Regions from separate parts of the Homo sapiens genome. Here region 1 is linked to region 2. The links come from fine-mapping of genetic effects on gene expression. A gene starts in region 2. The other region holds a variant in brackets. All regions are shown on one strand. Distances are between the middles of the regions. Region 1 overlaps LRIG1 (leucine rich repeats and immunoglobulin like domains 1). Region 2 holds the start of SLC25A26 (solute carrier family 25 member 26).

The links. PIP is the estimated chance that this variant, and not a neighbour inherited with it, causes the effect.
Region 1: its variant is the best candidate, but not a certain one, in a credible set for the expression of SLC25A26 in whole blood (INTERVAL, PIP 0.76).

Annotation. Positions count from the first base shown.
Region 1 is chr3:66,380,734-66,385,126 of GRCh38, reverse strand. LRIG1 (leucine rich repeats and immunoglobulin like domains 1) reads left to right here. Exons shown (of 19, transcript NM_015541.3): 14 at 855-1,136; 15 at 1,726-2,145; 16 at 2,729-2,854; 17 at 3,496-3,648; 18 at 4,266-4,393. Among named protein-coding and RNA genes, the nearest start is that of LRIG1, 120 kb to the left of the region's middle. RefSeq lists enhancers at 1,431-1,930, 1,931-2,432. The variant T/C (reference allele first, on the strand shown) is at 2,239.
Region 2 is chr3:66,218,865-66,223,257 of GRCh38, reverse strand. It overlaps SLC25A26 (solute carrier family 25 member 26), which reads right to left and starts at 2,257. Exons shown (of 10, transcript NM_001379210.1): 1 at 2,131-2,257. The coding sequence starts at 2,163. RefSeq lists enhancers at 1,634-2,133, 2,255-2,314, 2,485-2,644.

The DNA.
Region 1 (4,393 bases), 160 kb before region 2:
GTTTACTGTCCCACCCCAGTAACCTAATGGGGTTATCCTGATTACTAACTCTCTAGTTAAAAAGAATTGGCTTGAGAATCATCAGAATGGTGGATCTGCTTTGCTCTTTAAGCCCCCACAGATCACAGCGAAACACCTTCTTTACCACACTGTAGTGGGGTTGTCTTGGCTTATTCCAAGTCCTCACAGCTTCCGAAAGACTCAGCTGTTTGTTAGACTCTCCCCAAAATTGACGTTGACAGGAACTCTGGTGGTGCCTGACACGTGGCTGGATGCGTCCCACTCTGTCAGGACATCGATCTTTAGGCTGAGCAAGCTAGCAAGCTGAATGCTTCCTGCCTGGGTATACGGCAGTGGGCAGGAACAGCCTGGGTGAACAACCATCCAAATGGATGAGCCATCCCATTCATCCCATGAACACCCATCCAAACGGATGAGCCATCCCATTGCTCTCCCAAGGTGGAGGCATGCCCACCTTCCCTCTGTAATTCCATCTCCACAGCCTCTCTCTTGGTGGGTAAAGCAGGCAAGCATCAGGCCTACCTAGTGTGGATGGGCACCCCCTGCAACTCCCGTATAGGCACTGCCATGTAGAGTAAAAGCCTTTGCTTTGAAGGGACTATAGCCAGCCTAGGGTGTACAATGCAAGGCTGATGGGATGGAAGTGTTCCAACTGTGGTGGGAGAAGCTGGGGGTTCCTGATTCACAGGTGGCAGGAGTGGTCCTGGGCAGACATTGGGAGAAAAGAAGTGAACTGGCACTGGGCACAGTGACAGGTAGGTGTTTGCCAGAGGACTTCCTGGTTTTGCATCTAGCTGTCCCGTAACCCGACCCTGTATACGTATGTTTTCCAGTGTTGCCATCATTCACCAAAACGCCCCACGACATAACCATCCGGACCACCACCATGGCCCGCCTCGAATGTGCTGCCACAGGTCACCCAAACCCTCAGATTGCCTGGCAGAAGGATGGAGGCACGGATTTCCCCGCTGCCCGTGAGCGACGCATGCATGTCATGCCGGATGACGACGTGTTTTTCATCACTGATGTGAAAATAGATGACGCAGGGGTTTACAGCTGTACTGCTCAGAACTCAGCCGGTTCTATTTCAGCTAATGCCACCCTGACTGTCCTAGGTTTGCCTATTGCTCTACTGTGTGTGTGTGTGTGTGTGTGTGAGCGAGAGAGAGAGACTCTCAAATGCTCTGTGTGGCCAGGGGTGGTATGCGTTGTGGGCCTTTCGACCCTGTTTGAAATTTGGGGCTGCTTTTTGAGTTGAGTTAATTTTTCTTAAACAAGTGTTTCTATCTCTTTAAAAGAAATGATAGCTGGTGAATTAAGAGTCTTCATAGGGTTTAGCTACAGAACATTTTAAGAATTGGACAGGATGGATGTGGGCTTGGTCAAGAGCTACAGAACATTTTAAGAATTGGACAGGATGGATGTGGGCTTGGTCAAGAATAAGGACACAGGCCTGACACAGGACAGTTAGGGAATAGCAGGGGCTTTTGTCAGCAGAGGTTCACTGTCCCTGTGGAAGCCACTCCCAGCATGGAGATGACTCAGTCAATGAGTTGAAGGGTCTTCTCCAAAGCTTGCCACTCTGAGACAGAATCTCAGATGCATCTCATTGATATGTTGGATTGTCCGTTGTCCAGAAGACCGGGCAGAGCCAGAGCAACGGAGGCCCTGAGAATGACTAAGATCTCTGTTGCTCTCTTGTAGAGACCCCATCCTTGGTGGTCCCCTTGGAAGACCGTGTGGTATCTGTGGGAGAAACAGTGGCCCTCCAATGCAAAGCCACGGGGAACCCTCCGCCCCGCATCACCTGGTTCAAGGGGGACCGCCCGCTGAGCCTCACTGAGCGGCACCACTTGACCCCTGACAACCAGCTCCTGGTGGTTCAGAACGTGGTGGCAGAGGATGCGGGCCGATATACCTGTGAGATGTCCAACACCCTGGGCACGGAGCGAGCTCACAGCCAGCTGAGCGTCCTGCCCGCAGCAGGCTGCAGGAAGGATGGGACCACGGTAGGCATCTTCACCATTGCTGTCGTGAGCAGCATCGTCCTGACGTCACTGGTCTGGGTGTGCATCATCTACCAGACCAGGAAGAAGAGTGAAGAGTACAGTGTCACCAACACAGGTCAGGCCCTGCCAGCGGAGCTGACTTTCAAGGAGGGAGGAATGGCAGTGATGCTGGGGAACTGGGCCGGGTTCCAGTGGCTTTTGAAAGAAT[T/C]GCACTGTGTTCAGAACTCCTGAGGGTTTAGTCCCACTAATTCCATTTTAACTTTGAGGAACTTAACCTTAAACAGGAATACTCTCAAATTTAACCTTAAACAGGAATACTCACAAATACAAGTAACTGACGCACCATGCAGTTTTCCCTCTCCTTGCTAACTCAGAGGCCGCCTATGCACAGGCCCTGCTGCCACGTAGTAGGTTGTTCCTGAAACAGTGCGGTACTTCTGTGAGCCCCGGCTTTCCATCACTGGTCTCCACTTCTTGTGGCGTCTGGCATCTGCTGGCTGCGCTCTTCACGCTGGGTGTAGAGTAAAGCTGAGCAGGCTCTGGGAGGGCCTGTTGCGTACATGGACTCCATGTCATCTCTCTGCACAGCGCTGATGGTCGTCACTGGGAGGATCCCCTTTCTGAGCTTGACAGTGAACGTGTGTCTGCATTTCTTGTCACTGAGACCCTGGTGTTCTATTTGTTCTGTCTCCTTGCAGATGAAACCGTCGTGCCACCAGATGTTCCAAGCTACCTCTCTTCTCAGGGGACCCTTTCTGACCGACAAGAAACCGTGGTCAGGACCGAGGGTGGCCCTCAGGCCAATGGGCACATTGAGAGCAATGGTAAGGCCTCAGTAACTGTGAAGCAGAGCTCTGCTGTGACTGTGTCTCTGGGTGCTGGAGGTGGCCTCCAGGTCTTTACAGGGCAGGTACCTGGCATTAGATGGGGCAAACTTGGTGAAGTAGAAGGCGGTATGACTAAGGGCTGCTATTTTGGACCCAGTCTTCATGAGTTCTGCAAGGTTTTAAAGTCCTGTCCCCTCAGGAAGCCACTGGATTGGGCTTAGCATCTCCCTGGCAGGATAAAGTAGGCTTGCCTGGAGTAGCAGCTGGAAAGGGCATTACGGTGCATGAACCCAGCCAACCCATTCCTTACATGGGGAACGTGCCCAGGTCTGCTCTGTGATCCAGTCTTACACTGGAAAGCTGTCACCAGGATGAGGTACTTCCAACGGTGGGGGCCTCTGAGCACTTGCCTGAGACTGTAGAGGCTCACCCTGAGACAGCTGCTCATTTCACAAGGCCAGCCTGCCTGCTGGGAAGTAGTAGCAGAAAACACGCTGCTTGCCAGACCAGCAGCCCCACCGCTCTGAAGAACTTTTTAAAAAAAATGACTGTTCTAGCGGCCTTGCTCATTCCTTTCATAAGGCTTACTGTGAAATACCAAGCCCAGAGTTTCTAATCGTGTTGGAATCCACTTGCAGGTGTGTGTCCAAGAGATGCAAGCCACTTTCCAGAGCCCGACACTCACAGCGTTGCCTGCAGGCAGCCAAAGCTCTGTGCTGGGTCTGCGTATCACAAAGAGCCGTGGAAAGCGATGGAGAAAGCTGAAGGGACACCTGGGCCACATAAGATGGGTATGAGATGCTTCCCATTGGAAGTAGTTTCTTTCTGAAATGGAAATTTGGGCTGACCTAGTCACTACATCAAAGGGGGAGACACATTCCTAGTCCACAGCTGTCTCCAAATTTGGTATTCAGTATATACAGGGGAAGCTCAGGCCTGGCTCTCTTAATTCCAGGATAGTTTCTCCTAAATAAATCTACGCCATGGTAAGCCTGAGCATGAATTTTCTAGATGTATAAGCAACTTAAATAAGGGGCAAGGCACAAACGAAGTATAGAGTTTCAGTCAGCACTTTTTCACCAGGGCTATTTTGAGGCTTATTTCTAATTGTTGAAAAGACCCAACACTGCATGGTACCTAAGGCTAATGGCTTTTCCCCCGTGAAGCAGTAAGACTACATTGTCTATGAAATTCACTGTAAACACGAAAGACCCCACAGTTCATGAGTGACTTGGTGTTTGCCCAGTCCTTTCTCTGGGGACATAGTTGGGGAAAAGAGGAAGCATGCATACAGTGTTTGCAGTCAGGGTTCTCACCTTGCACAGTGGAGCTGAGCAGCCTGTCCTCTGTGTGGGGACGAAGACTCCCACAGCAGTGACTCTAACCCATCTTTGGCGCTGTCCTTCAGAACACGGTGGCCGGGTCGTATGCAGTGACTGCAACACCGAAGTGGACTGTTACTCCAGGGGACAAGCCTTCCACCCCCAGCCTGTGTCCAGAGACAGCGCACAGCCAAGTGCGCCAAATGGCCCGGAG
Region 2 (4,393 bases):
TTCCTATCTTTTAGGTCTTAGCTGAAATGTTACCACTTCGTGGCTTTCCTTGGTCACTCCATCTAAGAGGTTCACCAATATTTGCCTACTCTGTCGCATCTTCAGTTCATTTCTTTCATAGCACTTATTCATTGCAACTGTTTTATCTGCTGGCCTTTCTTCCCTACTTGAAATGGGGTTATCTGCCACTGTATCTACAAAGCCTACCACAATACCCAGTGGGCAGAATAGATGGAAGAAAAATTGTGTGCTGAATGCATAAATAAAATGTTTTTCCTTTACCTGGAATGAAATCTAGTTTCTTGAAACTTCCACCTATTGATTCTAATTTTACCCTCTATAAATACATTGGGAAAAAAGTATACTTTACTGCATGTGTATCATACTTTAATTAAGTATATACTAAATCCATTCTTTTGTTAACTGCAGCACTCACCTGTGTTTTAGCAATTGCAACCTTTGCTGACTTCGGAGAGTATCAAGAAGCAGATAAGGGCACGACTCCCAGGTGACATCACCTGGGTTGGAATATGAGCTCCAATACTTACACAGACGAAATGGATCTCACTTGTGTGATTTTGAACTAGTTATCTAATCTCTTGGTATCCCACTTCCCTCATTTGGAAAATTAGGATAAGAGTTCAATTATTGTGAGAATTAAATGGGATAATGTATGTAAAGAGCTTACCCCAGTTCCTGGCACAGGAATGTTAGCTGACAAACTACTGCTGCTGTGTCACCAGCTAGACAGGAAAGCTCCTTAAAAGCGGTAACATTGGCCAGGCGCCGTGGCTCACGCCTGTAGTCCCAGCACTTTGGGAGGCCGAGGCGGGCGGGATCACGAGGTCAGGAGATCGAGACCATCCTGGCTAACACGGTGAAACCCCGTCTCCACTAAAAACCCAAAAAATTAGCTGGGCGTAGTGGCGGGCACCTGCAGTCCCAGCTACTCGGGAGGCTGAGGCAGGAGAATGGCGTGAACCCGAGAGGTGGAGCCTGCAGTGAGCCGAGATGGCGCCACCACACTCCAGCCTGGGCGAAGAGTGAGACTCCTTCTCAAAAAAAAAAAAAAAAATCAGTAACATTATTTCTTTATATTTCTAAGACCTACCTTATACAAGTTTCAACAAATCTAGATTTAAAGCTATCATCCTACAAGTCTGGCTAAGACATCCCTACTTCCATATATTCCCCTAACACCCTGAACCTAGCCCACCTGTTATTTATCCCAACAGTCATTTTACTATTTTGTCTCTAACACCTGACCCTTAGGAGCAGGTCTATCTTGTTCACCATGTTATCCTCAACACCTGCAACACCAAAATTCGATAATTAAGTGACTAAATCACTGTGGGCCTCCATTTTCCCTATGAAAATCATTTTAAAAATTATTTGTCTGTCTCTGCCCATTCCACACAATGAAAACGTAGGCAGCCAAACTCTGTTTTGTTAACTGCTGTATCTAGTATCCTCTACCAGACGCTCCAAAATATTTGGTAAAGGACTTTTTTTTCTGTTAATTCATGTTGATTCTCGTAGTTTTCTGCTACGGAATTAAATACTAAGCCTGTTTATTGACTCCGCAGCGTTCCCGATGAGCTATGTGTGCTCACCAATATTTCTCCAAAGCCTAGGCTTGGAGCAGAAATAGCAGATTATGTATTGAATGAACAGAAGGACATGTCATTTTCTAAGACTGAAAAGAGATGCAGCAAAATGAGAAACGTAGTATTGAATAGAAGGGCTGGGAGCGATGTGAGTAAGGTTTTTGTTGTTGTGTTACATACATTTCTTTAATTCCCAAGATCTCTAGAGTAGTTACACTATTTAATGAAAGAGTAGTTAACAGTGTATAATAGAAGCTCTTTTTTAAGTAAATGAGGGTGCAAAAGACAATGACTCACCTTCCTTCCCCCACCTGGCTCTTATGACCTGGCAGTACAGACATAGCCTTAACACCTGGCCCGCCGGTGGCCTGGGAGCCTCGTGCTCCCTCTCAGACCTGGCTGCCAGTAACCCGAGGACAGTCCAGCCCGCAAAACCGGAAGAAAACCAGTGCAGAGAACGCCCGCGGGCTCCAATGCCGGACGCCGGCACTCTGAGCAACCCACCCCACCGCCCCGCACTCACCACCAGCGCTGCCACGAACCCCGGCCGGTCCATGGTCGCTCAGACCTCGTCAAGGCTACAATCCAAGCCGGAGCAGAAGCGGATCACGTCCTCGCGCGCTGGGCGCCGCCATGTTTGAGGCGGGTCTGTCTTGAACTTCCGGGACCACGTGACGTAGAACCACAACAACTGCACGTGCAACGCGAGACACCTGGGCCTAGGGGAGGGCCAGAGAGGAGGGGCGGGGCCTCGGGGAGTGTGGTGGAGCTAAGTCTCGGCAAATCCCTTACCTCGGTTTCCTGCAGCAGCGTTGTGTGCAGCTAGACGGAGGAACTTTCGCGAGCAAAAGATCCGTGGCCGAGATCCAGGAGAGAGCAGCGGTAGAATGAGGCCGGCGTGATTCTGAACTGTAAACCCAGAAGAGGCGTGGCTGTGGCGGAGGGAGGAGTCGTGAGGGGTAGTACTAACCTCGGGAGGCGCGATTCGGGATCCTAATCGGATATTTCATTTTGGTTTATCTCTTAGTTTTGTCAAAAAATTTTATCTGAGTTTATATTAAATTAACTCATTATCAGAAGATTATTAAATAAAGATATAGAAAAATACATCAGAAGTTTCCTGACCGGAGTTAAAAATTAGCATCCTCCATTTCTCTTTACAGAGTTACTGCATTTAAAATTATTTGTTTGTTCAGTTATTTACCTGCTCATGTTGTTCGCTGTTGTACTCATGTGTACACCTCAAAGCACACGTTATTAAGTACTTAATAACATTTCTTGGAGTGGACCTGTCTTTATTAAACAAACAAATACCTTGTAAACTTCTGTATATATTAAGGGCCAACTACATCTCAGACGTGGTGCTAAGTGATTGACAGACATTTTTTCATTTAATCCTTTCACCAACCCTATGATGTCAGCAACACTAGTGTCCTCATTTTACAGAGGCTCCTGATGCTCCAACAAGTAACCGACTCAATGTGGCTACAGAGAACACAGCAGAGCAAGCACTGAAAATATACTTAATGCCCTCATCATCTTTCCTCAAAACCGTTATAATAACCTGAGCAGGCTCCTTGCCTGGCCTTTCTTCAATCCCTATTCTATAACACTGCTAGAATTATTCTTATAATTATTCTTATTCTCTTCTAGGTAAAATGATCTAGAAATGATACGCAGAATAGCTTTAGGTGTTAGATGGAATTCAAATTCTATCACCTGCTGGGTTTGGGGATAAGTTTTCCAAGATTAAGTTTTCTCCCCTGTAAAGTGGCGATAATGATAGTCACTTTGTCATGCGGTACTATTATATTAATAGATTAAATGAGATAATGCACTCAAGTTCTTAGCCTAGTTCCTGGCTCATAGAAAGTACTCTCTAAAGGTGATGGTAATGTTATTTCCCTGCTTACAACTCCCCTCTGCTGCCAATGGAGACAGTCCAGCTCCCTAGCATGGTATACACCTCTCAGCTGGTGTCTCCTGTCACTCTTCCCACTAGCCGGACTACACACAGACAGACTATACACTTCCAAGCCTCCTAATTTTGCCCATGTTGTTCTCTCTACCCAGAATACCTTTCCCTAAGCTGCCTGTAGGCCCTCTCAAAACATGCTAGTTCACTTTGTCAATGCCAGCAGAAGAATCTCTGTTGCTGCTATTAATGTCTTTCAAAGTCTCATGTGCTTTGGTCAGGCCTACCCAGGATAATCTCCATTTTTATTAACTCAAAGTCAACTGATTAGAGACCTTAATTATATCTGAAAAATTCCTTTTGCCATACGTGACAACATAATCATGGTGGTAATGTTCTGTCATACTCACAGGTCCTGCTCACAATCAGTGGGGTGATTATGCAAAACACATTAGGGGCCAGGAATCTTGAGGGCCACCTTAGAATCCTGCCTACTTCACATTCCTATAAACCCTCACCGGCAGCCTCCTCAAAGGCCATCAAGTTTCTATTAATAAGCTTTCACTGACATTTCCCTCACAGTCTTCCCACCTTTCACCTACTGCCTGGTGCCAATGGCACTCCCACAGTTTAGGAATTACAGTAGCGCCCACCTCCAAGTACCAAAATCTGTATTATTTGTCTATTTCTGCGTAACAAATTACCCCCAAAATTTAACAGACTAAAGCAACGATAAACTTCTATTACCTCACACAGTTTTCATACGTCAAGAATCAAGGAGTCATTTAGCTGGGTGTTTAAGACTCAGAAATTTTCATGACACTACAGTCAAGATGGTGGCCAGGGCCATATCATAAAACTTGATCATGAC